Homo sapiens: one gene and its partners. The protein of the gene in region 2 interacts with the protein of the main gene of each other region in a pairwise test. Each region holds a gene or a part of one and is shown on either strand. Other genes may lie near its edges.

Evidence for each region.
Region 1: the proteins of AQP10 (region 2) and NEMP1 interact in binary tests that used the Homo sapiens proteins (3 or more experiments, as listed by UniProt).
Region 3: the proteins of AQP10 (region 2) and TMEM167B interact in binary tests that used the Homo sapiens proteins (3 or more experiments, as listed by UniProt).
Region 4: the proteins of AQP10 (region 2) and PLP1 interact in binary tests that used the Homo sapiens proteins (3 or more experiments, as listed by UniProt).

The regions. Positions count from the first base shown.
Region 1 is NC_000012.12:57,067,899-57,076,827, forward strand, and holds part of NEMP1 (nuclear envelope integral membrane protein 1 isoform a precursor), read right to left. Parts: intron 5,015-8,929; coding exon 4,890-5,014; intron 2,996-4,889; coding exon 2,776-2,995; intron 1,409-2,775; coding exon 1,336-1,408; intron 1-1,335. UniProt on the Homo sapiens protein: Together with EMD, contributes to nuclear envelope stiffness in germ cells. Required for female fertility. Essential for normal erythropoiesis. Required for efficient nuclear envelope opening and enucleation during the late stages of erythroblast maturation.
Region 2 is NC_000001.11:154,315,211-154,324,092, forward strand, and holds the start of AQP10 (aquaporin-10), read left to right. Parts: upstream 1-5,882; 5' UTR 5,883-5,945; coding exon 5,946-6,050; intron 6,051-6,719; coding exon of another isoform or gene 6,720-6,722; coding exon 6,723-6,849; intron 6,850-7,771; coding exon 7,772-7,909; intron 7,910-8,030; coding exon 8,031-8,149; intron 8,150-8,378; coding exon 8,379-8,596; intron 8,597-8,882. UniProt on the Homo sapiens protein: Aquaglyceroporins form homotetrameric transmembrane channels, with each monomer independently mediating glycerol and water transport across the plasma membrane along their osmotic gradient. Could also be permeable to urea.
Region 3 is NC_000001.11:109,092,481-109,098,080, reverse strand, and holds the end of TMEM167B (protein kish-B isoform 1 precursor), read right to left. Parts: intron 5,192-5,600; coding exon 5,060-5,191; coding exon of another isoform or gene 4,999-5,059; intron 3,665-4,998; coding exon 3,582-3,664; coding exon of another isoform or gene 3,502-3,581; 3' UTR 1,147-3,501; downstream 1-1,146. UniProt on the Homo sapiens protein: Involved in the early part of the secretory pathway.
Region 4 is NC_000023.11:103,777,911-103,786,839, reverse strand, and holds part of PLP1 (myelin proteolipid protein), read right to left. Parts: intron 1,259-8,929; coding exon 1,072-1,258; intron 376-1,071; coding exon 114-375; intron 1-113.

The DNA of each region.
Region 1 (8,929 bases), on a different chromosome or scaffold from region 2:
AGCTGGGACTACTGGCATGCACAACCATGCCTGGCTAATTTTTGTATTTTTTTGTAGAGGCAGGGTCTCACTATGTTACCTAGGCTGGTCTCAAACTCTTGGGCTCAAGTTATCCTCCCCCTTCAGCCTCCCAAAGTGCTAGGATTACAGGGGTGAGCCACCACAACCAGCCCCCCATTCCAGATTTTTTCTACCAGTTATTCCTCCCTGTTTCTCTCAGCATCACCAAAATAACAACTTCCAGCAACCCCACTCCAGCCCAACTTCAAACTCCAATTGTTAATCTTGCATTCACTACTCCACAAATACTTTTTACTTGTATACAAACTTAATGTTGATTTTACCTTCATTCAATGTTTATTTAGTTACCTATATATTTTCTTCATATTTGTACATGTCAGTCTCACCTGTCTTAACTAGTAGGTTCCTAAAGGAAAAAATGAATAAACACTTGATTTTTTTTTTTTTTTTTAAACAGGGTCTCCCTCTGTGGCCCAGGTTGAAGTACAGTGGTGTGATCTTGGCTCACCGCAACCTCCGCCTCCAGGCTCAAGCGGTTCTCGTGCCTTAGCCTCTCGAGTAACTGGGATCACAGGCACATACCACCACGTCCAGCTAATTTTTGTATAGACAGGGTTTTGCCATGTTGCCCAGGCTGAGCTGTGATATTTGTTTCCTTTTTTTTGAGATGGAGTCTTGCTCTGTTGCCCAGGCTGGAGCACAGTGGCACGATCTCGGCTCACTGCAAGCTCCACCTCCTGGGTTCACGCCATTCTCCTGCCTCAGCCTCACAAGTAGCTGGGACTACAGGCGCCCGCCACCACGCCTGGCTAATTTTTTTGCATTTTCAGTAGAGATGGGGTTTCACCGTGTTAGCCAGGATGGTCTCGATCTCCTGACCTCATGATCCGCCAGCCTTGGCCTCCCAAAGTGCTGTGATTACAGGCGTGAGCCACCGTACCCAGAAGCTATTTGTTTCTTTACGTCTGAACAAAATGAAACTCATCAACCCATGGACCTGTAAAGATGACACCTTAACACATTACTTCTAGCAATAGAAAGGGTGATGATGTTCCATTTCATTGTATTGGCTAACTCCTATCAACCTAATGATGGGCCAACCTAATGTGGGAATTTCACTATTGTCAACATTGTTCAAATAAGAAAAAACAAAAATCATAATACACATTAAAGTATTTTTTTAAATATCCAAGCAGGCAACGGCCAAGCCATAAAGGTCCTGGAAATGGGAATGGCAGTACTTAATAGTTACTATAAAACGCAGGCAGGATAGGTATGAGCCGTTTCATTCTGCACACTAGCCTTGGAACCTACCTGCTCAGCAAGTCTCCACAAAAAAATAGCATAAGTCCAAGAAGGAAAACAAGAAAGAGTTTGGGATCAAATCCTGAAATAAATAAAGATTTTTGCTTAATAAGGGAACAAAACTGCTTAAGGTATTATAGAATAAAAGACAACGTTGGCACTATTGGTCAGCTACAGTAAAAATAAATGCAAACAGCCCACCTAAAAAGCATTTAAATTTCACCTAAAGCCTGGGCACCCTTCCAATGTATAATTAGGTCTCTGTCTAACCTGTATTTGCCTGAAGATCTTACTTTTACTTAGGCTACCTATGCTAAGGTTAAAAGAAACTCAAGCTTCGTTTTGGACAAAGCTAGACACAGTACCATCAGCAATTCATGCAATCACCCACAAGGGGTCTCTATCACTCTGGCTTTCAAGCTTTAAGTCACTCACAGTCATGGAACTCAGCAGATTTGCCCAGAACTGTGGGTCAGGGCCTTGTGTTGTTCTCTAACTGGCTGCTTTTCTTGCCCAACAATACCACCTACTTCCCTTTGCTACAGAACACTGTGCTGGAAAAGCCTACACGCAAATACCTCTCACTCAGGACCAGGGGGCCCTAGCAAAGGCCCCTTAGTGGCATACCAGATACTCCCACAGCTTTCACATTCAAGAGTTCTACGGGAGGCCCACAAACAGAACAGGAGCAGAAGGAATCAGTAACTGTAGAAGGAACGTCAAAAAACAAGCCAACCCTACGTAACCAAAGAACCCTAGGACAAATGGAAGGGCACAACCTATTTCATACTAAACCTAGAAACATTTCTACTACTTACAACATCCCAGGACCCTGTGTAGTAACCAAGGGGAAACAAAGTCAGAGAGAATTCAACAGGATCCATCTCCCCTGAAACTTTCTCAGTCATCTTCAGAAAAGAGAAAACTTCTCCCAGTTCCACTGAATAAGTTTTAAACTGCAGTGGTCTTCATCTTTATTTATGGTTCCATGAATACTCTTTTTACTTGTGAATGATTTTCAATTTTACCTTTCTTCAATTTTTATTAACCATTCACGTCTTTAAATGTAGGCATGTACACATCAGACAGTTACCTTTGTCTAGAAGTGTCCAGAAGGTAGAACACGTCTATCTGATTTACTCTAAGAGTATTTGGCATATATGCTCAGGGACATTAGCAGCACAATGTAATTGGGAATAAAAGAATAAAAGTCTTCACAGTTCCAGGTAAGGAGGTACTCAGAATTTCCTGAGGTGGAGTTTCAATTCTAGGCCTGTCTGATAGGGGTGAAGTCTCCATGAACTGTTTAGAGCAGTGGTATACTCAGGGTTATAATCAGAACCCAACTGGAGCTGTCTTAGGCTGACTTCTCAGTCTCACTAATTATACCCTTCAGAACTCAGTCCTTATCACTACAGAATCCATCAGAAAAACAGAGGTGAGACTTACTCCGGATCACAATGACACTGTACTTGGTGTCCTTCTCTATAATCTCAACTTTGAGGCAGGTTTTTGTGCTGTATAGACCCACGTTAACATAGGTGTCATTCAATTTCTCTTTTAAAAAGGAGGAAAAAAAGTTCCAGATACTAAACTGCTCTAGCTCCTTCAGTTTCTCCTCATTCTCCACCTGGGTGACTCGAACCAATCTGGAACTATTTACTCGGATCTGTAACACAAATAAAATCAGGATGAGAAAAAAGGAAGTAGGAATTTTAATTTTTCACAAATACAATTTTTTAAAAAACCCTCAGACTAACAACCAAATCAGTAATGGTGCCAGTTTTCCACAAAGCTTATCAGAAATATAGAAATACAGTGGCTAAAACATAATTGGGCAAATAACACTGCACATGTTACAGAGAGACAGCTGTTAGAATACCTTCTTGTTAACATGATCTGAATCTACTATTAGGGCAGAACATAGAGGGAAAAAAGACTTCCAAACTGAAAGAGTTATCAATACAGCTATTTATTAGAGATCACACAAAGCAAAGGTCTATAATATTAAGAAAATTGCCAGGCATAAACTGCCCCAGAAAACTAAAAATGTTTTCCGTAATGACAGGCTGAGTTCAATCCATTGTCACAAGCCACTGATTATGAGTAAATGTTGGTTATAATGTGCCCCAGATGGAGTATCACTTTTTTATCAGATAATTTTTTTTTTTGAGATGGAGTCTCGCTCTGTCGCCCAAGCTGGAGTGCAGTGACATGACTTCAGCTCACTGCAACCGCCACCTCCTGGATTCAAGCGATTCTTCTGCCTCAGCCTCCTGAGTAGCTGGGACTACAGGGTGTGCGCCACCATGCCCAGTTAATTTTTGTATTTTTAGTAGAGACGGGGTTTCACCATATTGGCCAGGCTGGTCTCGAACTCCTGACCTCAAGTGATTTGCCCGCCTCAGCCTCCCAAAGTGCTGAGATTACAGGCATGAGCCACTGCGCCCGGCTTGTCAGACATTTTTTTTAAAGAATTTTTTTTAAAAATCCACAAGTTGGCTGGGCATGGCCCCCAGCTACTCAAGAGGCAGAGGTTGCAGGGAGCCGAGGTCGTGCCACTGCACTCCAGCCTGGGTGACTGAGCGAGACTCCGTCTCAAAAAAAAAAAACAAATCCACAAGTCCACCCTTATGTTTTTGATGTGAACAACAAATGTCCTTATCAGTAACTATGCTTATAACAACTACGACATTTCTGAAAGGACCTATTTTGTACAATCACTGTTACAGCCAGACATTCCTGTTTGCCAGGTGACTTAACAGTGTTATGAAATAAATGAGACCAAAGTAATTCTTCAGCTCGGGGGTTTATGAAATATCTCATATAGAATCAGAATAGGAACAGTGGGGCAAAAGAGTTTACATCCTCACAGGCACATAACAGTTTCCAGCCCAAAGAAGGCATAAGGCCTTTAAAAAGAAAGAAGGGGGCTGGGTGCGATAGCTCATGCCTATAATCCCAACACCTTGGGAGGCCAAGGTGGGCAGATCACCTGAGGGCAGGAGTTTCAGACCAGCCTGGCCAACATGATGAAACCCCATCTCTACAAAAAATACAAAAAAATTGGTCAGGTGTGGTGGCGTATGCCTGTAATCCCAGCTACTTGGGAGGCTGAGGCAGGAGAATCGCTTGAACCCGGGAGGCAGAGATTGCAGTGAGCCAAGATGGTGCCACTGCACTCCAGCCTGGGCGACAGAGGGAGACTCTGCCTCAAAAAATAAAAAATAAAAATAAAAAAAGAAAGAGGGGTATGTGTGCGTGCACACACACATACTGCAAAATGAAGGACAAGAAAACAAAGCAGTTTCTTTGGGAAAAGGAGGGAGGAGGAAAGAAGTTTACCTTAGAATACCGTAATCTACTTGAGGGAGCAGAGAGGAATACAAAGTAGGCATAAATGCTTATTGATGAAAACACAACTCAGGATAATCTCAACCCTAACAAGATTGTTAACAACATTTTTTTTAAGCATGTGAAGGGGAAGAAAGTGTCAAAATACTCACTAATCACCAACAGAAATTTACAGAAGCTGCCACTGCCAGAGGATTCCAAGTTATTACCTGTATCCGTGTCCATATATCATGCCATTTTGGGATAAGCACATTTGTGTAACAGAATTGTTGGCTGGCACGCTTTTCACAAACTTGGGATTCCTGAAGCATGACCACATTTACATCAGTTTCAGCTTTATGCAAAGAAAGGAAACAAGAATTAAACATAACAAGCTAATAACTATAACTCATTTCATGAAAAAGATTAAACTAACCATTTTCCTAAACTTTGGGTTAAAACATTAGCCAGACTGAGAAATAAGAAAAAAAACTGAGAAGAAGGAAGAACTAAGGCAGAATCTTATTTCTGTCGTTTAATTATTTAAATATTACACAGTCATTCAGTCAGAAAAGTAATAATAAAAACTACTATTAAGTATCTATTTTTTTTTTTTTTTGAGACAGTCTCGCTCTTTTGCCCAGGCCGGACTGCAGTGGGGCTATCTTGGTTCACTGCAAGCTCCGCCCCCTGGGTTCACGCCATTCTCCTGCCTCAGCCTGTAGCTGGGACTACAGGCGCCCGCCACCGTGCCCGGCTAATTTTTTTTTTTGTATTAAGTATCTATTAAGACAGTATGCTGCCAGGCGCGGTGGCTCATGCCTGTAATCCCAGCACTTTGGGAGGCTGAGGTGGGCGGATGACCTGAGGTCAGAAGTTTGAGATCAGCCTGACCAATATGGAGAAACCCCCCCGTCTCTACTAAAATACAAAAACATTAGCCAGGCGTGGTGGCACATGCCTGTAATCCCAGCTACTCGAGAGGCTGAGGCAGGAGAATCACTTGAACTTGGGAGGCGGAGGTTGAGGTGAGCCGAGATCACGCCATTGCACCCCAGCCTGGGCAAAAAGAGCAAAACTCTGTCTCAAAAAAATAAAAAATAAATACATAAATAAAAGAGACAGTATGCTGTCTCATTTAATGCTCCCAACAATGCTATGAGGTAAGCACTCTCATAATCCCTATTTTATAAATGAGGAACTGATGTTTAAGAAAGATTAAGTAATTTGCTCCAAAATCACACAAATAGTAAATAGCCTATCTGAGATTCACCCCCAGGTCTGACTATGGTCTTAAACACTAGATATACTTCCTGTCCTATAAAGGAATAAAGTAAGCTAAACTACTCCATCTGTTGATTTTCTCTATCCCTTTCCTGAGTAGAACAGAATTGGCAGGTTTTTTATTTTATTTTTTTATTTTTTTTTTGAGACAGGGTCTGGCTCTGCTGCTCAGGCTGGAGTACAGTAATGTGATCATAGCTCATTGCAGCCTCAAACTCTTGGGCTCAAACAATCCTCCCACTTCAGCCTCCCAAGTAGCCAGGACTACAGGTATACACCACCACACCCAGCTAGTTTTTTTTTTTTTTAAAGAGACAAGGTCTTACTATGTTGCCCAGGCTGGTCTTGAACTCCTGGCCTAAAGCAATCCTCCCACATTGGCCTCCCAAAGCACCCACGCTGACCTCCCAAAGCACTGGGATTACAGATCTGCCACCATGCCCAGCCAGCATTTTTTTTTTTTTTTTTCAGACAGGGTCTCACTCTGTCACCCAGGCTGGAATACAGTGGTGCGATCTTGGCTCACTGCAACCTCTGCCTCCCAGGTTCCAGCGATTCTCCCACCTCAGCCTCCTGAGTAGCTGGCATTACAGGCATGAGCCAACTCAATTGGCTAACTTTTTTTGTGTGTGTGTATTTTTGTAGTAGAGATGGGGTTTCACCATGTTGGCCAGACTGATCTAGAACTCCTGGCCTCAACTGATCCACCCACCTCAGCCTCCCAAAGTGCTGGGATTACAGGCGTAAGCCACCACGCCCAGCCAGCAATATTTTTAATATATAGTACTTTTGGAGGATACTAAAAGATTTCAAGGTTGTTTCCTTCCAGCTGTTTTGTGTCACTTCAAATTTTAACAGCAGGCAATGATTACATGCAGTCCCTCTGATTTACCAAAACAGAAGATTCTCCTCTCAATTTGTATTTAATATCAGCTAATTCAAGATTTAAAAGTGACCACTGTCCAGCCGGGCATGGTGGCTCACACCTGAAATCCCAGCACTTGGGGAGGCCAAGGCAGACGGATCACTTGAGGTCAGGAGTTCAAAACCAGCCTGGCCAACATGGTGAAACCCCGTCTCTACTACAAATACAAAAAAATCAGCTGGGCATGGTGGCGGGCACCTGTAATCGCAGCTTCTTGGGAGGCTGAGGCAGAAGAATCGCTTGAACCTGGGAGGGGAGACTGCAGTGAGCCGAGATCGCGCCTCTGCACTCCAGCCTGGGTGACAGAGCAAGACTACGTCTCAAAAAAATAAATAAGGGGCTGGGCGCCGTGGCTCACACCTGTAATCCCACCACTTTGGGAGGCCGAGGCAGGTGGATCACCAGGTCAGCAGATTGAAACCATCCTGGCTAACAAGGTGAAACCCCATCTCTACTAAAAGCACAAAAAAAATTAGCTGGGTACGGTGGCGGGCGCCTGTAGTCCCAGCTACTTGGGAGGCTGAGGCAGGAGAATGGCATGAACCCGGGAAGTGGAGCTTGCAGTGAGCCAAGATCACACCACTGCACTCCAGCCTGGGCGACAGAGCAAGACTCCATTTCAATATAAATAAATAAATAAATAAATAAATAAATAAATAAATAAATAGTTGGGAGCCAAGATCACACCACTGCACTCCGGCCTGGGCGACAGAGCAAGACTCCATCTCAATATCAATAAATAAATAAATAAATAAATAAATAAATAAATAGTTGGGCCCAGGCGTGGTGGCTCACGCCTGTAGTCCCAGGACTTTGGGAAGCCAAGGTGAGGGGATTGCCTGACCTCAGGAGTTTGAGACCAGCCTGGCCAACATGATGAAACCCCATCTCTACAAAAAAAAAAAGAAAAAAAAATAAGGCCAGGCACGGTGGCTCACACCTGTAATCCCAGCACTTTGGGAGGCTGAGGCGGGCAGATCATTTGAGGTCAGGAGTTTGAGACCAGCCTGGCCAACATGGCGAAATCCCACTCTACTAAAAATACAAAAAAATTACCCGGGCATGGTGGCACACACCTGTAATCCCAGCACTTTGGGAGGCTGAGGCGGGCAGATCACTTGAGGTCAGGAGTTTGAGACCAGCCTGGCCAACATGGCGAAATCCCACTCTACTAAAAATACAAAAAAATTACCCGGGCATGGTGGCACACACCTGTAATCCCAGCTACTCGGGAGGGTGAGGTAGGAGAATCGCTTGAACCTAGGTGGCCGAGATGGCACCACTGCACTCCAGCCTGGGCAACAGAGCAAGACTCCATCTCAAAAAAATAAATAAATAAATAAATAAAAATGTATACACAAAGATGTTCACAAACTTACAACAATGAAAAACTAGAAATACCACAAATATCCAACCAACAGTACAAACCACCAATATCCAACCAAATGTTTAATCCACAACATTAATAATGATTTTTACCAGGCAGATGGCACGTGCCTGTAGTCCCAGCTACTTGGGGAGACCGAGGTGGGAAGTTACAGTGAGCTATGATTGTGCACTGCACTCTAGCCTGGGTGTCACAGCAAAACCACGTCACTAAAAAATAATAAATGAAGGCCAGGCATGGTGGCTCACGCCTGTAATCCCAGTACTTTGGTAGGCTGAGGCGGGCGGAACACCTGAGGTCAGGAGTTCGAGACCAACCTAGCCAACATGGTGAAACCCCATCTCTACTAAAAATACAAAATTAGCTGAGTGTGGCTGGGCGTGGTGGCTCACGCCTGTAATCCCAGCACTTTGGGAGGCTGAGGTGGGCAGATCACGAGGTCAGGAGTTTGAGACCAGCCTGGCCAGCCTGGTGAAACCCCGTCTGTACAAAAAATACAAAAAGTTAGCCAGGCATGGTGGCATGCGCCTATAATCCCAGCTACTCGGGAGGCAGAGGGAGAAGTGCTTGAACTCTGGAGGCTGAGGTTGCAGTGAGCCTAGATAGTGCCATTGCACTCCAGCCTAGGCAACGAGGGCGAAACTCTGTCTCAAAAAAAAAAAAATTAGCCGAGT
Region 2 (8,882 bases):
ACCCTTTATTTAGTTCATGTGACTTAAGTAATCTTTGGGAAATAAATACAGTTTTAAAGATTATTGGTAAAATAAAAAATCTTCAAAAATGTAAACATTTTGTCCGGGTGCGGTGGCTCATGCTTGTAATCTCAGCACTTTGGGAGGCCAAGGCGGGCAGATCATTTGAGCTCAGGATTTCGAGACCAGCCTGGCCAACATGGTGAAACCCCATCTCTACTAAAAATACAAAAATTAGGTGTAGTGGTGCAAGCCTGTAGTCCCAGCTACTTGGGAGGCTGAGGGAGGAGAATTGCTTGAACCCGGGAGGCAGAGGCTGCAGTGAGCCGAGATTGAGCGACTGCACTCCAGCCTGGGTGATGGAGCGAGACTCTGACTAAAAAGAAACAAACAAACAAACAAAAAAAAATGTAAACATTTGGTCTAAATTATACAGGTCAGATATTAAGTTTGCTAAATTCTTTAAGGTCATAAGCTGCTTCTTTGACTATTAAAAATTGTTCAATTTTAGGCTGGGTGCAGTAGCTCACGCCTGTAATTCCAGCACTTTGGGAGGCTGAGGCAGGCAGATCACAAGGTCAGGAGTTCAAGACTAACCTGGCCAACATGGTGAAACCCCATCTCTACTAAAAATACCAAAAAATTAGCCAGGCATGGTGGTGCGCACCTGTAATTCCAGCTACTCAGGAGGCTGAGGCAGTAGAATCACTTGAACCCAGGAGGCAGAGGTTGCAGTGAGCCGAGATCATGCCATTGCACTCCAGCCTGGGCAACAGAGGGAGACTCTGTCTTAAAAAAACAAAAAAACCCAAAAAACAAAAAACAACAACAACAAAAAAAATTGTTCAGTTTATCTACTTTGGAGCATTAGATTAAATGTGTTATTGGTACATGTTCCAAAATTATGAGAAATTCCTATAATTCTAATATGACTTAGCGTATGTTATTAATAATTGTTACATAAAATTTTGTATGCAACAGAAGTAACCAAAATTTCCTAGTTAATTGTGGCTTTACTAGTGGCTGTCCTAAGACTTTTTTTTTTTTTTTTTTGAGACAGATTCTTGCTCTGTCACCCAGGCTGGAGTGCAGTGGCACGATCTCAGCTCACTGCAACCTCTGCCTCCTGGGTTCAAGCACTTCCTCTGCTTCAGCCTCCTGAGTAGCTGGGATTATGGGCACCTGCCCTATGCGGCTAATTTTTGGATTTTTGGTGGTGACGGGGTTTCACCATGTTGGCCAGGCTGGTCTCAAACTCCTGACCTCAAATGTTCCACCTGCCTCCGCCTCCCAAAGTGCTGGGATTACAGATGTGAACCACTGCACCTGGCCCTAAGACTTTTTATCATCCACAGACAATTGTTGTCTTGTTTTGATCTTCTTTAGAAGGTAGTTTATAATCAGCCATAGGACTTTAACAGGTGCACTTAAATGCAGGTTTCTGATAACTTTGGAGATTGTGACATTAGAATAGAGGAAACAACTTTCAGAACTCTCATGGGGAGCTGAAATGTTCATAGATATCAAACAAAAGTTAACTGCATAAACTAAAGAAGACTAAAGCAATCTTTTTGCCTTTGCTTAAAACATTGCTGATCCTTTGTTTTATTTTTTAGAGTCAAGGCAACTTTTCTTTTCAGATATTTACAGCTTTTAATAATCGAGTAAAGTATACTCCTGTGAACAAAATTTGGAGTATATGCATCTCTCTACTTGATTTCTCCAGAATTTGGAAATTATTTGTGTGTATTCTTAATTTATGGCAATGCAGTTATTTGCATAAGGGTAATAAGAATCTGTTTTCTTTTGCAACAGGACACAATTGGAGAAATTGTTTATTTTATGAAGGGTTTGACTGGAATGGTGTGCTTTCCATTAAGGAATCAAACTTGACTTGTAAAGCCTATAAAAGCCACTTAGCGACCTGGGCTCATAACCTTGCCTACACAGTCCCTGTACAGGGTTTCTGACCTGTGGTAAGTAAAGAATGTCACCTTCTAAAAGGTCCAGGAGCCCCAAGTTATCTGGGGACCTCAAAAGGAGAGGAAGAATTTACCCAACTCAAAGGTATTTGAGGGCACAAACCCATGGCAGGGCTCAGCTTTAAAAAGTCTTATCCAAGATTCTTTCTATGGAACAGAGTTCCATCAAAGCCAATTTTAAAAGCCTACGTGAAAAATAATTATTCTTGCTGCACTTTATACAATCATCAGGCCAAGTATAATAAAGCACATTGGTCTTACCATAAAAATGGTCTTTCATAAAAATGGGAAACTGGAGAGAGAAAAATTATGTTTCAAGAACTATGATACACTTGTTATTAAATTCCAGTCTCATCAGTTGTCTTTAAGTTTGTTTCTGCAATTTAGGCTAACCCTGCTTAGTCCTGTGAACCAACCAGTGGCCTCTGACTGCTGCTCAGAAGAAACAAGAGGGATGGGTAATGTAAAAATCTGCATCAATATTCTAATTCTGGGCATGTACTGGAATCATCTAGCAACCTCATATCAGCGTGGTTCCAACAGTTCCTCAGTTCATGGAAAGCCTTCTAGTTTAGTTTACTTGGGATAATTTTACTTATTTTGCTTTATGGTTGTGGAATGTATAGCTGTTGTAATCTTTGTATAGGAATGGAGGACAAGCTTACTGAATGTTTCCTTAAACTGAACACTTATGAATCTTCCAGAGTATCACCTTTTGTCAGAACTCATGAGTTATGAATGGCCCTCAAGATACCAATGCTTTTTCTTCCCTTCCCTTCCCTTCCCTTCTTTTCTTTTCTTTCAGATGGAGTTTCATTCTTTCAGGCTGGAGTGCAATGGCACAGTCTTGGCTCACTGCAACCTCCGCCTCCCAGGTTCAAGAGATTCTCCTGCCTCAGCCTCCTGAGTAGCTAGGGTTACAGGCACCCGCCACCACATCTGGCTATTTTTTTTGTATTTTTTAGTAGAGACAGTGTTGCACCATGTTGGCCAGGCTGGTCTGAACTCCTGACCTCAGGTGATCCGCCTGCCTCAGCCTCCCAAAGTGTTGGGATTACAGGCATGAGCCATCCCGCCTGGCCCATACCAACACTTTCCAACTGAGCTCCTCTCTACCACGAATATGAGAGATTCTAAGAGTTAGGCAAAAATATCATCGCCCCTATTCATCCTGAAGAACTTACAGAAGATGGACCTTCGTCCCTCTGCAACCCTTAGGATTAGTGCTTCTCTTATAAAAGGAAGGGGGGAAATGTCAGAGGCACGTGAACCAGAGCAAGTCTATTTTGAACAAGAGCTGAGTAAAATGAGAATGAGACTTACTGGGCTGCATTCCCAGATGGTTAAAGCATTCTAAGTTACAGAATGAGATAGGAGGTTGCCATAAGATACAGGTCATGGCCGGGCATGGTGGCTCATGCCATGACAGTTTATAAATGCCATGACAATGACAGGAAGTTACCCTATATGGTCTAAAAAGGGGAGGCATGAATAATCCACCTCTTGTTTAGCATATCATCAAGAAACAACCATAAACATGGGCAACCAGCAGCCCTCGGGGCTGCTCTGTCTATGGAGTAGCCATTGTTTTATTCCTTTACTTTCCTAATAAACTTGCTTTCACTTTACTCTATGGACTCGCCCTGAATTCTTTTTTTCTTTTTTTTGAGGCGGAGTCTCGTTCTGTCACCCAGGCTGGAGTGCAGTGGTGCGATCTCGGCTCACTGCAACCTCCACCTCCCGGGTTCATGCCATTCTCCTGCCTCAGCCTCCCAAGTAGCTGGGACTACAGGCGCCCACCACCATGCCCGGCTAATTTTTTTGTATTTTTAATGGAGACGGGGTTTCACCATGTTAGCCAGGATGGTCTCAATCTCCTGACTTTGTGATCCCGCCTTGGCCTCCCAAAGTGCTAGGATTACAGGCATGAGCCGCCGCACTCAGCCTGAATTATTTCTAGTGTGAGATCCAAGAACCCTCTCTTGGGATCTGGATTCAGACCCCTTTCCTGTAACAAGATTAGGCACCAGGAGAAACTGACACACATGGATGATATAACAGATGCCTAAATGGATCCTATGGGGGAACTGGAGCTGGAACAGCCCTTTAGAGTTGTCGCAAAGTGAGGCAAAGAGGCTAGACTTTTATATCCCTCCATCAATCAGTGTTTGACATGGGCCCCATAGGAGGGCATGTAACCTTCGGTGAGGCATCTTTCTGACTTGAAGGGCATTGCCCAATGAGGGAGGTAGCTATGTGGTATCAGCAGCTGGTATTTCCTACATGTAGCGAATGGGCATATTGGCTCCCAAGGGGGAATCTGGGTGGAGCACTATAGTATCCATTAAACCTAGTAAAGAAATATTATTTCTTTACTAGTCACACAGATGTGCCCAGGACAGTGGTAGAGCCCACAGGGTTACATAAATCATAATGGTAGCCCTCAAGAACTTCATAAACTGTATATGGTATTTTAAAAAGTTGCATATTGTCTGTTTCCACCTACTAGAACATAAGCTCTAGGAGGGCAGAGACTATGTTTTGTTCACCACTGTTTCTCCAGTGTCTAGACGTAGATTCTTTGAATGCATTTAATTGGAGCCTTGAGATATGAAGAAGTAGGATGCGGTTACTTCATGCAGAGCAAGAGTGGCATGCACCCAGAGAAGGCCAGGTGGAGCTCAGCATGAGTGTGAAGGCCTCATGTCAAGCCATGTCAGGGGACACAAAGATGGAGTATTCTCTAACCTATGTGACACTCGGCATAAGGGAAGTACAAGCACTCAATATGTGAGTTTCATTCCCACAGTCTGTGGTCTTTAGCCCAGTCTTTCCAGATGCCTATTGAGTTCTTCAAGCATCCAAATGGTTTGGGGTAAGGCTTCAGGTTCTAAATGAGAGGCTTTGTGGGTTACCAGCTGGAGAGTCAGAAAATCTGGATTTGAATTCACTCAGCCATGAAATAATTGTGTGATCTTGGGCCGGGCACGGTGGCTCACGCTTGTAATCCCAGCACTTTGGGAGGCCAAGGAAGGTGAATCACTAGAGGTCAGGAGTTTGAGACCAGCCTGGCCAACATGGTGAAACCCCGTCTTTTTTTTTTTTTTTTTTTTTGAGACAAAGTCTCGCTCTGTTGCCAGGCTGGAGTGCAGTGGCACAATCTCGGCTCACTGCAACCTCCGCCTCCCTGGTTCAAGTGATTCCCCTGCCTCAGCCTCCCGAGTAGCTGGGACTACAGGCGTGCACCACCACGCTAATTTTTTTGTATTTTAGTAGAGATGGAGTTTCACCATGTTGGCCAGGATAGTCTTGATCTCCTGACCTCGTGATCTGCCTGCCTCGGCCTCCCGAGAAACCAAGTCTTTACTAAAAAATATCAAAATTAGCCAGGTGTGATGGACCTGTAGTCCCATCTACTTGGGAGGCTGAGGCAGGAGAATTGCTTGAACCTGGGAGGTGGAGGTTGCAGTAAGCTGAGATGGTGCCACTGCACTCCAGCCTGGGGGACAGAGCAAGACTCTCTCTCAGAAAAAAAAAAAAAAAAAGTTTGATCTTGGGGAGTTCTAAGGCCCACTAGCCTCATCTGTAGAATGGAAGCAATAGTACTACTTTGCAGAGCTGACTTCAGGACCAAGAGATCTAATGTCTATGAAGCGGGGTACTTCCTTCTATTTGTCAGGATGGGGGAGGCTAGTCCTGTGATGACTGGGAATGAAGGGTAAAAGAGACAGAGGTTGGGTAAACTCCAGGCTCTGTGTTCATAGCCTGCTCCCAGACATTCTCTTGTTATCTCTCTGTTTCCTAGCCTACACACGTGCACAGACACGTAGCTGCTGTTCAGGAACTGAGCTAATGGTTTTAAAGTCTGTTCCTTATCTTTGCTGGAGGCAGGCAGTAGCTGTGCAGTGACAGTGTGCCTATGCAGACAGAGGGAGCAGTGAATAGCAATAGGGTGTTTCCACCATGGTCTTCACTCAGGCCCCGGCTGAAATCATGGGCCACCTCCGGATACGCAGCCTCCTGGCCCGGCAGTGCCTGGCAGAGTTTCTGGGTGTGTTTGTACTCATGGTAGGTAGGATCACTGCGGGAAGGAAAGAAGGGGGTTGGGCAAAAGTTCCTGGCTCCTTCTGTTGTCCTTATCTCTTTCTCTTGGTGTCCCCCTTCCTCTCAACTCCCTATCACTTTTCGTTTTTATCCTCTCGTCTCTCCTAATCTCCTTTCCTCTCCTACTTCATCATTTTTATTCTTGTCATTTTTATTCTTTCTTTAATAACAAGTGTATCATAGTTCTTGAAACATAATTTTTCTCTCTTCAGTTTCCCATTTTTATGAAAGACCATTTTCATGGTAAGACCAATGTGCTTTATTATACTTGGCCTGATGATTGTATAAAGTGCAGCAAGAATAATTATTTTTCACATAGGCTTTTAAAATTGGCTTTGATGGAACTCTTCCATAGAAAGAATCTTAGATAAGACTTTTTAAAGCTGAGCCCTGCCATGGGTTTGTACCCTCAAATGCCTATGAGTTGGGTAAATTCTTTTCTTTTTTCCCACATTCTTTCCCTTTCTTCTTCCTCCACTTTCCCCATTTCTTTTCCCTTCCCTCCTTCTGCTTTTCTCCTTCCCTTGCTTGTCTTCTGTGCTCATTCATCTCCTTGGCTGCTCCCCTGGCCTTCCCAACCTTTCTCCCTGTTGGTCTCCTGGGCTCCCTGTTCCTCATCTCTCCTCTTCTCAGCAGCTCCTCACCCAAGGAGCTGTGGCCCAGGCTGTCACCAGTGGAGAAACCAAAGGCAACTTCTTCACCATGTTTCTGGCTGGCTCTCTGGCCGTTACGATAGCCATCTACGTGGGTGGTAACGTCTCAGGTGAGGAGGGTGGGGTCTGGTCATCAGAGCACGTGGGATGTGCATGCCAGTTTGTCTGTCTGGTGATGGTGGAAACGCAAATCCTTCTGTGACTCGTGGACATTATCCCCTTGAACAGTGTCCCAGACTGAAATAAGCCTTTGGCCCCACCAGCCCCTCCTCTTTCTGTATCTCTCCATCCTGCTTCCTCACACTAATGCTTGGCTCACCTAGACAGAAATCAATGGCAGGGCACGAAGGGCAGCTGCTATCCTCTTGTATCCCCCACCTGAAGTCCTCTGGGGGCTCATCTCCACTCAGGACCTCTCCTGTTTGTACCCCAGATACACACTGCATCGGTGTGCTTGGGTGGAGCCTTGAGACATAGTGTGTTGCTGTGGAAAAAGCAGACAGACCTAGGTTCCAACTTTGGATTCACAGTGTCTTCTTCTTTTTTTTTTTTTTTTTTCTTTTTTTTTGAGATGGAGTTTCACTCTGTTGCCCAGGCTGGAGAGCAGTGGTGTGATGTCTGTTCACTGCAACCTCTGCCCCTGGGTTCACGCGATTCTCCTGCCTCAGCATCCCGAATAGCTGATTTTACAGGCACCTGCTACCACGCCTGGCTAATATTTGTGTTTTTAGTGGAAACGGGGTTTCACCATGTTGGCCAGGCTGGTCTGGAATTCCTGACCTCAAGTGATCCACTGCCTCGGCCTCCCAAAGTGCTGGGATTACAGGCGTGAGCCACTGTGCCTGGCCCACAGTGTGACTTTGCTAAGTCACTTAACATCTGTAACATCTGGAGCCTCAATTTCCTAAGCTGTGTGATGAGAATTACACTATCTGCCTTAAGAGCTATAGGAAGGAGCAGTAGTGTTGTCTGGTGACAATGCCTGGCAGTGACACTTAATAGATGCTCTTTTTCTTTCCTTGATACTTGAAGGGGCCCACCTGAATCCAGCCTTCTCCCTGGCCATGTGCATCGTTGGACGCCTCCCCTGGGTCAAGCTCCCCATTTACATCTTGGTGCAGTTGCTGTCTGCTTTCTGTGCTTCGGGAGCCACCTATGTTCTCTACCATGGTGACAGAGGGAACAGAGGGAGCTGTGCCTTGAGAGCACCTGTGGGTGGGCAGGGGTGCCTCAGAATGGTTTTGGATGAATGAGCAAAGAGGGAAATCCTGGGTGTTCCCTTCCTCCACAGATGCCCTACAGAACTATACAGGTGGGAACCTGACAGTGACTGGCCCCAAGGAGACAGCCTCCATTTTTGCCACCTATCCTGCCCCCTATCTGTCCCTGAACAATGGCTTCCTGGATCAGGTAAGTGTGAGGGGGAGACCTGGGGACACTACTTTGGTCCTGTTCCTCGGCACCCCAGCCTATTGTTCAGTCTCTGGGTGGAGTGTGGGTTGGGTCTATCTTGGCACTCCCCACCATCCCCAACTGCCTGTGTTGCACAAAGCCAGATGACATGGAATATTTGGATGAGAGAGGGCAGATGGAGCACCTGGCAGCTGACAGGGAACCCTCTGCCTCTGTTGACTCCAAGGTTCTGGGCACTGGGATGCTGATTGTGGGGCTCTTGGCCATCCTGGACAGACGGAACAAGGGAGTCCCTGCGGGTCTGGAGCCTGTGGTGGTGGGGATGCTGATCCTGGCCCTCGGGTTATCCATGGGTGCCAACTGCGGGATTCCACTCAACCCTGCCCGGGACCTGGGCCCACGTCTCTTCACCTACGTGGCTGGCTGGGGTCCTGAAGTCTTCAGGTGGGAGACAGACTCTCCTGGTGCTGGCCTCCACTCACCTTCCTCTGCTAAGGGCTCTGTCCCTGGGTCCACAGCACTCTGCCTTTAAAATAGCTCTCTTGGCTTCTTAGGACAGTGTTCTTTCTCCAAGTCATATTCTCCCCCTTTCTCCCTTGCTTCCCTCCCAACTTTTCACTGAAACAGTAAGATTTAGAGGTTGTGTTCTTAGGCATGCCACATTACTTCCATGCACATTAGTGACTTCATCAGCAAAATTAATATATTCAGATAATTCCCTAAGGCAAGA
Region 3 (5,600 bases), about 45 Mb from region 2:
ACACAGCCAAGAATACTGTATTTAAATCCAAATATTAGGAAGTCAGGATATCTATGAAATGGGTACAGATAGGAAGGCATATTCCTGTCCCCACTTAGAGAGCCCTAAGTCTGCCCACAACTTAATGCTGTGGCACCCAAATTTTTGAGCCTTCATTTATGGTCATATCTATTAAAACATACGTTGACTTCCAAGTTCCAGAATGAGTAGAGTGTAAAATAGCAGTGGTTATATAAGCAGAATTAGCTCCTCTCACATTAGAAAGCATAATTTTAATGGCTCAATTCCTTCTTTTTCCTTTTTCAATGAAATGGGTGTTGGGGGGTAGAAATCAGAAGAATTTTGGAGAGTAGTACAAAATGATTTAAGTTCTAATTTGTACTTGTGCCAGTCTCACCAGGCACTTGAAATAAACAAATAAGGGGGAAAGTACCCATTGTATGTGCCAGAATCCCGCTGGCTCAAGGATTTTTTTTATTTTTTATTTTTTTTTTGAGACGGAGTCTCGCTCTGTCACCTAGCCTGGAGTGCAGTGACACATTCTTTTTTCGTATTTTTAGTAGAGACAGAGTTTCACCATGTTGGGCAGACTGGTCTCGAACACCTAACGTCAAGTGATCCACCCGCTTCAGCCTCCCAAAGTCTGGCTCAAGGATTTTCTAGGTGTCTGGCTGGTTAACTTGTTAACTTCATTTGAATGAAGATGTTTATGACTGTTTAGAGCAGATGATACTTGTATTTTAATAGCAATAGCAGATGGAATGTATTGGGGGTGCTATCTACCTTATTTCATTCATATACCTCAATACTTATTCATTCACATATATATGAATATCTTATTCGTATATATATGAAAACTTACTACATGCATTTATATTTAGTTATATATATCTCAGCATATCATATATACATATATATATCTAGTTATAGATATCTCTAGATATATCTGTCTCAGCTGCCCTAAAGGAGAAAACTAGGCCATCATAGATTCTTAACTATATAATACATTCAATGCTCTCACAATGGGATAACAGGAATGATGGTATTTACTAATGTGAACTAAAAAGGTAGGCTATGAACTGAACCCAGGGGAGGACTGAACAAACTTCAATAAATTCAGCATGTGACAAATAAATTGACAAAGACTGTAGGGAAAAAAAGGTTTATTTTCAAGGATTTGTGCAGACAATGGTGAATAAAAAATTGTATTTCAACTATAAAAAGGAGCTGACTTCATTCCACCCTGGCCTACAGGGTTTATGGTGATGCCAGTTTGAATCTGAGGCAATACTGCTATCCCCATTCCTCCACCTGTAAAAGATTCCCCCAGAGGAATAACATTCTATAACTTTTAGTCAAAAATATGTAAGACACATCAAACAAAGTAATGAGTTAAACAAGTTTCTGCTTATCTGCTTAGGGAAAGTCAAGAAATGAAACAAATGTATATTTGTTTCTGGCTGTAAATTACCTTTACCTTGTGCACTTTTTGGTACATTCTGGTATGAAAACCTCTCAAAATGTAACAACACAAGAGTTTGGGTCAAGACGACCCACCCAGGAGGCTGTAAAAACTGGTTTGAACTAGAACTGTGGAATGGAACTAGTTTAAAATATGAAGCAGCTCTAAACACCAAGCTTAGAGACATTTGCCCTATTAGAAAACAAAAATCATTAAAGCTACAAAATAACAAGTGCAAACATGCTGAACCTGTTTCCAGGGAGTGACATTCCCTTCTGCCAACAGGTCCCAAACTCACACCCACAAGGTGTAACTCTCTTTCCTGTTCCACTAGATTTCCTTTCTCTCATCTCAAAGGTCCTCAGAAATGACAATGGAAAACGTATGAATTGTTGAAATTTACCCTGTGGACCAATTCCTGAAGAGATAACAGCCACAACTCTGAGATGATTAGACATGCAGTGTTTACTTGATGACTTTCTGTATTTCTAGAAACCCTCAAAGCATTAAACTGCCTATTTCAAAATCTAAACTTCCTAGCAGCTTTTATTATTTGGAGTAAGCAGACAGAAGACAATTTACTGCCACACAGGAATCAACCACAGCTAACTTGTCCACCATTAAGTTTTACGGTAATGGACAATTCAACTGGAAGACCCATGTCTATGCTTGCTTATAATAATTTAATTTTAGACCTACTCTTTTTTTTTAAATAGAGAAGTTCTAGACATCCAACAGCTGATCCTTCCATAGATATAAGCAGGGAATGGAGAAGTCTTCCTGCCAAATGCTGAGCCATCTAAAATGGTCTGCTCAGGAGTTACTAACTCCATGGCAAAGTACTTCAGTATCAATTGCAAAGTTCTGTTTTCTTCTACTTCAGGAAACAACCTCATTTGATTTGTGGACCCTATGAACTGTCCAAACACACTGATGAATATCAGCAACTTCTCTCATTTGAATTTCTCATGTCCTTAAAGTAAATAGAATTTCCAGAGACAACTAAAGAGCAATGCAATATGAAGAAAATTAAAATTTGGCTAAGAAAAATAAGTAATCAACTAAAAATTGCCATAACACTCAGACTTAAACAGAAAATAAGTTTGTTGTCTTTTATAAGATGACAAAACTTCAATCTAACATCACAAGTTCTTATACTAGATGAATTTACTAGTATATGAATCAATATACTAGATTTCTTTCTTCTACCCCAACTGCAAATATACTAAACAATTATTTCTTCAATAGTTTCTTTTTCCCCTAGTCGTGGCATTTAAAACTGAGTAACAGTATTTAGCACTAAGTAAATTTAGAAAATATAAAAAGGTTTTACGAAATAGCAATAGTTGATTCATTTTTCATATACCATCTGATCAAGTGAAGTCTCCATTTGAGGATACTGGTGAACAGAAAGATTTTTTCTTGTCTAAGCCACTGCTTTCTGGTCTCATCACACAGATAATTCTCAAATTTTATGTAGGCCCAGATTTTCTTGGCAAAACTCTCAAGATACCAGCACATAACACAGCTACTTCATCTGTTCTCTTTTTGCAATGAGCACTATGCCTCTCTTTTATGTTCCCGGATGGGTACATGAAAGATAAATTTCTAAAGCCAAAGAATTTCTTGGCATTTCATAACTGTTTCCCACCCAGCATCCCCTCCCCAATTTGCCAGATCCAAATCAAAGAGTGAAAAGAAGTCTTGAAAATTCTCTCTCTTCAAAAGAAGTCTGAACACAGCCTAGTTCCTTCCCTAATGAGCCTCAGTTTGAAAAGATCCTGATGAGGAGCTGAAGAACAAAACAGGATGACAGGTTTTTATGAAGGAGGTATGTAATCTTATCACCGAGGGGTGTAATTTATCCGGACATTATATGCACTCTGCCAAGGACTGATTTACACATAGATCAAAGGAAGCTGGCTTTCTGTAGTCCCCTGAAGCATAAATAATGTTCGTGACCATGAGTTTTCCCCACATATAGCAGGGGCAGATGCTGTGGTGTCATCCTGGGGACCGATGATTTCAGCTGAACTCTCCTACACTGGGTTCAGGTCTCCAACAGGTTCTTCATCCCCGTCCCCTTGGTTGGCAGTTGATGACTTGGGTGCTTTGGAATTCATTTTATAAACAGGACGTAAAAGGCCATTACAACACAAGCAATTGCCACAGCAGCATGCAGCCTGGTTCCAATCACAGCGGCTAGCAGGCAAAAGAGAGAAGAAATCACACCCTGCCCTTCACCGAAGTCCTCACTTTCAAGGTGATATTTTGAAGTCTCTAGTCACAGACAGACATATCAACGCTCTCAAGGGCCTGGGATGTTTTTATTTTATTTTTGGAGGCAGTCTCACTCTGTCGGCCAGGCTGGAGTGCAGTGGCGCGATCTCGGCTCACTGCAACCTCTGCCACCCGGGTTCAAGCAATTCTCCTGCCTCAGCCTCTTGAGTAGCTGAGATTACAGGCGCCTGCCACCATGCCCAGCTAATTTTTGTATTTTTAGTAGAGATGGGGTTTCACCATCTTGGCCAGGCTGGTCTTGAACTCTTGACCTCAGGTGATCCACCCACCTTGGCCTCCTAAAGTGCTGGAATTACAGGCGTGAGCCACCGTGCCCGGCTCCCTGGCTAATTTTTGTATTTTTAGTAGAGACAGGGTTTCACCATGTTGGCCAGGCTGGTCTCGAACTCCTGACCTTGGGTGATCTGCCCTCCTCGGCCTCCCAAAGTGTTGGGATTACAGGCATGAGCCACCGCATCCGGCCTCTGAGATGTTTCTAAATGCTATCCTTATGCTTTAGGGTCTAGGTGAATATACTGTTTGTTTATATTTTGTCCTTTTTCAAAAAAAAATTTAGGTAGATAGGATTCCAAATGAATGTGCCTCAAATAAAAAGTACAAAAAAGCATCTGAGTTAATTAACTCAAACCTTAAAACAGACTCCAATGTACCATTTACAGAAAATCAAGAAAAATTTTCCGTAGAAAAATTTTTTTCCCACTGAAGGGAGGAATTCCACCCCAGCCTAAAATGATTTGATGTGTATACTTTTACTCCATGGAGAATACAAAAATCATCTGGATGCTAAAATAGACAATTATGTTTTTAAATAATTTTTTTTTTTTTTGAGACAGGGTCTCACCCTGTCACCTGGGCTGGAGTGCAGTGGCTCCACCATGGCTCACTGCAGCCTCAACCTCCTAGGCTCAAGCAATCCTCCCACCTCAGTCTCCTGAGTAACTGGGACTACAGGCACGTGCCACCATACCTGGCTAATTTTTGTATATTTTGTAGAAATGGGGTCTCACTGTGTTGCCCGGGCTGATCTACAACTCCTGGACACAAGCAATCCTCCTGCCTTGGCCCCCCAAAGTGCTGAGATTATAGGCATGAGCCATCACACCCAGCAAATTTTAACTTTTACCTCTTCCCTCAACTTTGGAGAATGATTAATTTTCCAGACTCTCAGACCCAATCGGAGGGATTTTTTTCTAAAAATGAAACCAAATATAATCCCAGCTCACTGTACTCCCTACTTTGTAGCTCCACACTGTCCAGAGATGGCAGTCTCTTCTCCCTGTCCAGACATGGCCTCACCTTTGTAAAACACACCCCAAACACCCTTCTTCTCTGATAGCAGCCAGGTTTTGAGACGAGGTACTTTCTTGAAGTAGGCACAGGTGCAAACAAAGAGCAAACCAAACACCAGAATCCCATCCAAGGAGTACACTGTTAAATAAAGAAGAAAAGAAAACCTTAGGTACTGATCTAGCGTCGGACCTGTGATCCCGCCTGAGAACTCTAAGGAAGATAGTGTGTGACATAATAACAAAATAATAACCTCAACAGGCAGTACTGACACTTGACAAGGGGGAGCCAGGATCCTGGGACTAACACGATTATTTTACTGTTCCCAAAAATTGCTTGTAGGAGGAAGGGGGATCAATTGAGCCCAGGAGTTCGAGGCTGCAATGAACTACGATCATGCCACTGCACTGTAGCCTGAGCAACAGAGTGAGACCCCAACTCAAAAAAAAATTTTTTTTTTTACATCCCCTTTACTAAAATGTCACTGGTCCTTCCCCTCACCTTTCAAGAAGTAGAAATCCTGGGCAGAAATTAGCATCCCAGGAATGAC
Region 4 (8,929 bases), on a different chromosome or scaffold from region 2:
TCAAATGCCAGGCCCCTAGAGAGGACCCAGCCTTGGGTGGGGACGAGGCCACAGACTCGCGCCCAATTTTCCCCCACCCCTTGTTATTGCCACAAAATCCTGAGGATGATCACCTTGTCGGGATGTCCTAGCCATTTTCCCAAACAATGACACACCCGCTCCAAAGAATGAGCTTGATGTTGGCCTCTGGAACCCCTCCCCTTCTGGCCCCCTGTTACCGTTGCGCTCAGGCCCTTGCCGCAGATGGTGGTCTTGTAGTCGCCAAAGATCTGCCTGACTGCGCCGGTGGTGTAGAAGCCCTCAGCCAGCAGGAGGGCCCCATAAAGGAAGAAGAAAGAGGCAGTTCCATAGATGACATACTGGAAGGCATGGATCCTGCATTAACAGGTAGACAAACGAGACCAGGGAATCTTATTAATTGAAGACCTGGCTTCTTTCCCGACATAAGTGAGGTATACACCAGAGCGAGCACCTTAACAAGGCTAGGGATTTTCTAGAGGAATCACCAGGTTCCTCCTGCATGCTTTCACCTTATCTTTGTTGAAATAAGTGAAGACAGGGTGTATGTGACCAGAAACATATGCCCCTCCCGCCACACCTTGCTTACCCTGGGACCTGGAGAACCAGGGACCTACTCTCCCTGCCCCACCCTTCAGACATGCTAACTCACAGGAGTAGGGAGCTAGACAAGAAGAAAGGTGGGTGAAGGAACAGGAGCCTAACTTGTTCTAGGAACAGGAGAGGCTTAGTGCCTCCCTTGGCTTCTCCATACCTACTACGCTGGAGGCTCCAACTTGGGCAATATGAACCACACCTAGCAGAAGTCAGAACACGTGTAAGAAAACAAGGGGGCGGGGGTGGGAGGGGCTGACAGGCAGGCAGGCAGACCCCTCCTTTCTGAATGGGCTTCGAATGTGGAGCAGGAGAGATCTGCACAGAGGGAAGACTCGGGAATCCGGTCTGGCTCCACCCCAGTCCCCTGCTAGTTACTAAGGTACTGAAGAGTTCTCTATCTCCAGGATGGAGAGAGGGAAAAAAAAGATGGGTCTGTGTGGGAGGGCAGGTACTTACACATTGATGAGATACTCATAGTCTTGGTAGTTTTTGGAGAAATAGGTCTCAATTAGCTTTTCTGTGCCAGTGAGGGCTTCATGTCCACAGCCACAGAACAGTGCCACCCCAAAGAAACACAATCCAGTGGCCACCAGGGAAGCAAAGGGGGCCCCTACCAGACATCTTGCACAGCACTCTAACAAGCCTGGGGAAGAAGAAGGGGAAACAGTCAGGCACATCCAGTAGGTAGCTCATGCCACTCAAACCCCTCTGCCAGGCCCTGTGCTCACAGGCTCGGAGATAGTGGGCACTCCGAAGTCAAAAAGCAGGAGCGGCTAGAGGTTTTGGCTTTCAGCATGTGAGATTGACCCAGAATCCTTACTTTGTTTCATTCTTGAAAATAAATCTTTGGCCGGGCACGGTGGCTCATGCCTGTAATCCCAGCACTTTGGGAGGCTGAGGCAGGTGGATCACATGAGGTCAGGAGTTCAAGACCAGCCTGGCCAACATGGCAAAACCCCGTCTCTACTAAAAATACAAAAATTAGCCGGGCATGGGCGTATGCCTGTAATCCCAGCTACTCAGGAGGCTGAGACAGGAGAATCTGTTAAACCCAGGAGGAGGCGGAGGTTGCCGTGAGCCAAGATTGCGCCATTGTACTCCAGCCTGGGCAGTAAGAGCGAGACTCTGTCTCAAGAAAAAAAAAAAGAAAGAAAGAAAATAAATCCTTACCTTTTATTGCCAGAATTTAAAAAATATTTAATAAATAATAATAATTCAGCAATTCAAATAGCAAGCCAGAGAGATTATGAAATCAGTCCCTTCTTTCTTATTGTTCTAGTCTGTTTGTTTGCTTGCTTATTTTAGTCATTCATCAACTATTTATGGAATACTCACTATATGCCCAGCATTATGCTGGGTGTTATACGGGATATGAAGAGAGAAAAGACACAGACTCTGCCATATGGGAGTCTTTAATTTCCTGAGGAAGAATTAGCTAAGTAGACCTAATATTTTCAACTAACAATTCAGGCAGCCAAGTAAGTGGTAACAGAGGGTAAATGCACTTGGAGTTCCAGGAAGGGATGAGTGCAGGCCAGAGATGCTGGTATTGTCAGACAGGATTTTAGCATGAAGAGCATTCCAGGTGGAGGAAACTTTGGAAATTGGATGCTCCTGGACATTTTTGAGCATCGTGTGTATTTGTTGCAAAGAATGCTTGATTCTTCTTAGTTTACATATGGGAGGAGCAGTCCAAACAGGATGGAGCTAGCACAGGACAAGAAATGAAAATTGGAAAATAGGAGGTTTGATATTACTCCCAATAATAAAAATGCAGGCTTAATGATTTTGGACACTTTGTATGGCAGTTTTGTCCTCCTATAATGCAGCTTGGCTAATGTCCCCACCCTCAGTTATACGCTGAGATTCTGTCAAAACAGCTACAAACAGACTTTATACAAAGTCAGCAAAGCATGAAACATCTTTCTGGCACTAGAGGAACACACCAGGGCCTGGGAACACATGTGTCTTAAAGTGCTAAGAGTCCCTGAGATCCCCAGACCTGGTATCCCAGGCCCTATGCCAGTGTTGCTGAGAAACAGGAGAGGCACACAAGAAGTCACAGGCTCTGAAAGCAGCTGTGTTCCAAGTACTAGTCCCATGCTCTAAGATGTCATATGGAGTGAACCTTAGCAAATGCCAAGTAGATGACTGACTAGATGAGGAAAAGAATGGCTTCCTCTGGCCTCTCGGCCAGATCCCTAAAATGTAGAAGAAATGAGAATGTTAAGCTCTTCAGAAAAAATGTCTTAATTCATATGTATGTATATATATAAATATATGTATATATACCCACTGATTTTATATATCTATAAACACAGTATACACATGCACACACACAAATACTCAGCAAATGTACTGGGAAGCTGCTATTTTTGAATAAGCAGGTTGTGACAGCTTGTACAATAAAAATAAATTGTATTAATTACTTAGGCTTGGATTTTTGTATTCAAGCATTTCTCCAAGCCACACTCACTTTTCTATAGGGTACCAGGGAAAGGGGACTCCTTTTCCTGATTCTGTTAACATTAGTTACAGTTTGTTTTTAGCCCAGAGAGCATGAATACCTAGTGATTTACATGGCTGAATTGCATCAGTGTGAACAGATTTGGAAAGATCAAATTATCTCTGTCATGGGAAAATCGAGGTAGAGGCATTTGCCTCTGTTCTCAGAGACACAAAAGGAGTGAGTCCTATTACCCACCATCCCCTGAAATGACAGCCCTTTCTTGGCCTTCAAAGAGTGTCACACCAAAGATGAGCCTCAGAAGCCCAAGCCAAACAAAGTAAGCAGCTAACATTTGGAGCAGAACTTCCTTTTCCAAGAACTAAAGCATTGCTGCCAGGAAACTTGGCCTCTATAAGAAGCAATCTGTAGCTGTGCTGCTGTGAGTGGAGGCTGAGTTTACTCAGCATGAACTTTGCAAACGTGCTTGGGAAGAGTGTCTTTTCAGAGCTGGCCCATGGGTGTGTCTGTGTGTGTGCACACGCACATGCATGCATGTGTACAAATGTGCACATACACACATGTATACCACAGAGAAAAACACAACAACTGAAATCGATTGTTGTTCTCAGAAAACATTCCAGAAATTGATCTTCCTCTTTCTCAACAGGTTAAGATACTAGATTCAGCCTATAAGTCAAGAAAAGGAGCTTAGAAGTAAACAGTACTGCCATTTTCCTTCTCTGCCTATCCAACTCCTCCCCACCCCCAAACTCTTAGACTTTTCTAGTAAAGAAAGTCTCTGAAGCCTGGGGATGGGGGGAGAAGAAGGTCAGTGACCCCACTGTTCCCTTTCTCCCCAGCACAGGGTCAGGGCTTGGACAGAGCCCTCCATAGCTCCCCCGGACAAAGAAGCCTTGTTCTTTCCTGAGATCTCAGGAGCCTGATTGGTATTCCACAGGGGCCTGCAGCCGGGGGGTGGGGAGGGGGTCAGACTCAGGGAACAATGGCAGGACTGTTTGTTTAGCCGAGGGTAAGAAGAGCCATCCACCCTAGCAAGTGACCATCTTGGGCCTACTCACTCATCCCAGCATTTTCATCTGGGAAGGGCTAAGTGCTTGTGCAGGTATGGTCAGGGATGGAGGAACTTGAACTCTTGCTAGCCAAAAGAGAACTCCACTTTAAGCGTTAGGTGATGCCACCTCTAGGGTTGCAAAGATGAGAGGGAAACATCCTCTTGAGTGTATCTGATCCCTCAATCATCATCCAAATAACCTGAGAGTGTCATGGATTGTGTTCTTACTGGGTGATAAATGGCTAAGCCTTAGGAGCAATTCTGAGTCACCAGATCATAGCCTTTCTTTTTACATCCATTTTTCCTCTATTTTCTTAGAACTTGAATAACTTAGCATCCCCTTTTCTGCTCCACTACAGCTCAAAGCAAGGGACAAGAAAGAAGTAGGCTTTAATGAGTTTCTAATGTAAAGTCTGAAATAAATGACTTTAGATAAATCTATCACTATTAAGCTATAAACAATTCAGTAATATCAGCATAAGCATCAGATGTTCATCTCTTCACAACCTAGATGAAATGTTTGCTTTGGGGGCATTTAAGTTCAGCAGAAGTGAAGAATCTCAGTCAGTCTGTCCAAGCAAGAATCAGATTTTAGATTCTAACTGAGAAAAACTCAGAGCCTGCAAGAAATTATTTTTTCATCAAAGTAGTTGACAATCAAAGCATTCTGAGAAAAGATCCATTGGGCTCCCTTTGATTTTTCACAGTCCAAGAAATGTCCCTTGGGTATGTGTGAACAATAGCCTAAAGCCAAAAGCTCTCCATTTCAGAACCCCTCCTGGTTGAAAGGGTGTGAGTTTGATTCAAGAAGGCTGGAAGAGATTCTAGGGGAGAAGTTCCTTGGCTCTCTCAAGAGACATTCTCACATTTCCAGTCTAAGTACAGACTGCGAGATGAGAGAGTTGGCATAAAAGAACCATATAGTAATAACATTTCTCAATGCAACTCAGTCAGATTAAGCCACCTGACTTTGATGAAAGGTCATAGAGAAAAATAATGACCCCCTCCAGTGTTTTTCTTTCATTTCTGTTTATGTGAATTCAGTACAAGAATTAAGCACACTAGCAGTGACATAGACATTAGGAGAAACAGAAGGGAATTAAAAGGCCAGTCCCTTTCTTTAGAAAACTTGAAATCCTGTTGGGGTGAACAAACATATGTCTGTGAATCAAAATCTAAAGCTACCTATAAGCAAGTGTTAAAATGGATATAACGAAGTTGTGTGGGCAAAATGTAAGCAAAGGGAAAAGATCATGTCATGGTTGGCTACATTTGTATACAAACTCCCAAAACAAGTCTAATCAATCTGTGATAGTTGATACTCCAACTTTAAGCCCTTCTCACCAGCGCTCTTCACAGCGGTCTGACAGAGATCAACAGAACCAATGTGACTTACACAGATCCAGGTTCATCAAGGGACTGTGTTGATCCTGATGCTGTCTCTTTAAGCAGGCACCAAGAGCTCCCAACCCTCCCTCCCTCCTTTCCCATGCCCTGGGCCCGCCTCAAGGACCAGCTCCATGATGGAAATTCAGTGTGAATCTGGGAACTCATCAAAGGAAGGAGAGGAAGGGCTTTCATCGAAAGGAATGGTAGAAAGAGACCAATTGTACCCTGCACAATTCCCAGCCTGTCCCTTGAATCCAGCTGACAAAGGGAGAGATAGAAGAACCCTATACAATAGAGCTAAACAACAGGCAGGCTCATTGAGTGAGAAACTGGCCCCACCTCCCTAGGTCTCGAATCTGCACTACAGTCTTACCCTCCTCCCAGAACCCACCCCTTAACCTTACCCCATGAACAGAGGCCTCCTTGATCAGGGCCTGCAGTAGTTGACAAGGCCGAAATGCTAGAGCAGCCGTGACTGGTACTAGGGATGGATGGGGATCAGTGGGTGGGTTCTAGGAGTAAAACAACAATTATCAAGAGGTGCCAGAGACAAACAAAGACTTTTGCTTCGGGCCTCGTCCTGGTCAGACAATGCCCTGCCTATAATCTTGTCTTTCCTACATATCCCTTTTGATATCAGCACTTATATACCACATTCAAGTGCTGGAAAACAGTCCCGAAGTCTCTGGGGCCTGGGAATCCAAGCCTGCTGGATAGTCAAATCATGTGGACAAGGTTAACTAAAAAGGAATCTCAGCCTCCTCTTTGGACACGATTTAGTATTACCACGGCAACAGCATCTGGACTATCTTGTTTCCTATACTCCCCACTCCTCTTCAGACGCGCACACACACACACACACACACACACACACAGAGAGAGACAGAATGAATGATGTACACATTCCAATTTATGTGCAAGCATTGGGAAGCTGAGGTAGGACTTTGATTGTTAAAACTTATCCTTGGCACATTGTCTCCACCTTGCCCACGAATGGGAAGATGAAAGGGAAGTAACTGGTACTAGAGACAATAGTAGCCATACCTTGTTCCTCAGGTCAGTCTCCCACCATTTCCTCCTCTCTCCTTGTTGCAGTGTGAAGCTGATTTGGGGAACCTTATTCTCTTCCTTGGGACTCTTTTCTAGAGCCCTGCCTGGCAGACAGCTCAGAGGCCAGTGCAGAGCTGAGAGATAGCCCTCAGGGCCATTTTGCCGTAGGCAAGAGGGATTAATCAATCAGTACTTGCTGAGCTTTTGATGTAAGTTTGGCACTGAGTAGGCTCTGAAAGCAGGAAAGGAAGGAAAAGCTGCTCCATTCACCTACCATGGCTGCTGTGACCCTTCCTGATCATGTCACTGTCCTCACTTGGTCTTCTTTAGACCTGAAGTGCTGTGGGCAGGGAAGGCATTTCTACTGTTGCTTTCTTTCAAGACAAAGACCTGTACCCAGGGGATGGCTTTCAAGGCTTCAGGACGATAGACAAAAGCAATGGGGGAAAGTGATGTTACTGGCTGGAGTTCTACCTTAATGGGTTTGGAGACTATATTTCCCCTCCCACCCACCTCCCAGGGTTGAGGTTGTTATTACTCAGATCGCTCTGAGAGAGCAGTTCCAGTTGTCAGCCTGTTAAGTAAACTTCTGGCTTTCCTAGCTCAGAGCCAAGCCCAAGGCCCCCTAAAGCAGGGTAGACCTTTCAAACTGCCTGGCTTTCCAAGAACTCCTCTGGCTCTGCACGGCCAAAGGGAGAAGTGAGGTAGAGAAGGCTGCACTTGATTATTTTAGTCAGTGTCTCCAGGAAGACTAGGTGAACATGCTGGCTGGGATCTGGTTTATTTTTGGCTCCTGGTATTCTTGGGGCATTCTTGCCATTTTGATGGGACTCAGTTAGTCTTCGGGCATTTTATAAAACTGGACCCCCGCTCTGCCGCCACACTTTTTGCCTGGGCTACACCCACTTACTGCAAGCCAGCCAAAACTACACTGCTTGGCAAACAGCCACTTTTGGATGGAGGCATCACAGTCTGGTTACCAGGGTAACAGCCACTGTTCTCAGACGACAACAGGCTTGCAGACAATGTTTTGCTGTTCAATAATGGCATTGTGTTTCAGAGCAGAGAATAATCAGCTACTGCTCTTTTGCTCCTTTCTGGTTCCATCATTATCCCAAAGACTCACTTGGAACATTCCCCTTCCAAATCAAGGCAAAAATTAATGAGCTATCATTTTCCCCATAAATCTTTTGTGCAGACACTACTGAATCAGTGTTCCTCCTTGCTTCCAATCCTAAGGGATTCTATATGGTTGAAGTAGTAAGTTCCCTGTTCCTGGAGGTGATTAAGCAGAGGCTGTACGAACATTTAATTGGTTGTTGTAAAAATGAATCCCGCATTGAAGGTTGGCTCAGACAACTTCTAAAGTTCCTTCCAATCCCGGATTCCATGATACAATGTGTTTACTGCAATTGTTGAACAGCAGTGCACTCCACATCAGAAGTAGTGGCAGTCCAGTACCTTGTTAGAGATGATCTATAATTCAAAGTACTTTAGATACTCTGTTATTGAATAAATGAAAACTCAGTGGCTGCTCCATCATATGTACCTGGCCCAAGTATCGTCCACCCTTAGGACCTGGGACCCAATGTGCATCCTCAATCGTGCCCTTATCTGTGGCACTCTTCCTCTGGAGGAAACCACCCAGCCTCCATAACAGGCAATTGTCCCTGTGGTCACTTTATTTGTTCCTGCCTTTCCTCAGGGATTTCATCCCCTGAGGAAGTAATATTCAACATCCTTCTTTACTCCCTCTCTGTTTTTAATGCACAACCTATCCAGTCAGCTCGGCTGACATTAGATAGGATTCCTGATGTTACCCAGGGCAGGAATTGAGTTCCTCCAACATTCACCTCTCATCTGGTCACACATAATTGGTCAAATGATTCTGACCCAAGCACGCAAAGAAAACCCAACCACCCTGGAAAGAGGAAGAGTTCGCCTGTATACACATTATTGTCTAATAGTAGGTATTATCATGATTTACAGTTGTTATAGATCTTGCCCATTTTCAAAGGACTTTGACATTATTGTTACTTGATTCTCACAACCCTGAAAGTAGACAAAGTAGTTATTGCTGTCCCCATTTTCCAGATGAGGAAGTGGTGATTCAGTGACCTGTCCAAGGTCACATAGTTCATAAGTAGCAGATCTGGGATTTGAATCTGATTTTTCCGACTCCCTGTCCAGTGCTCTCCCTCCTGTTTTACCTGAACACATGCTTCAAAGTGTTCTCTCTGTGTTTCATGATGAAACAACCTAAAGGCTGAACCAGCTCAGTATAATTGCAAATTGATCTCTGTGGATGTTGTCTACTGGATGCTACATTTGATAGGGAATACATGGGGCAACTG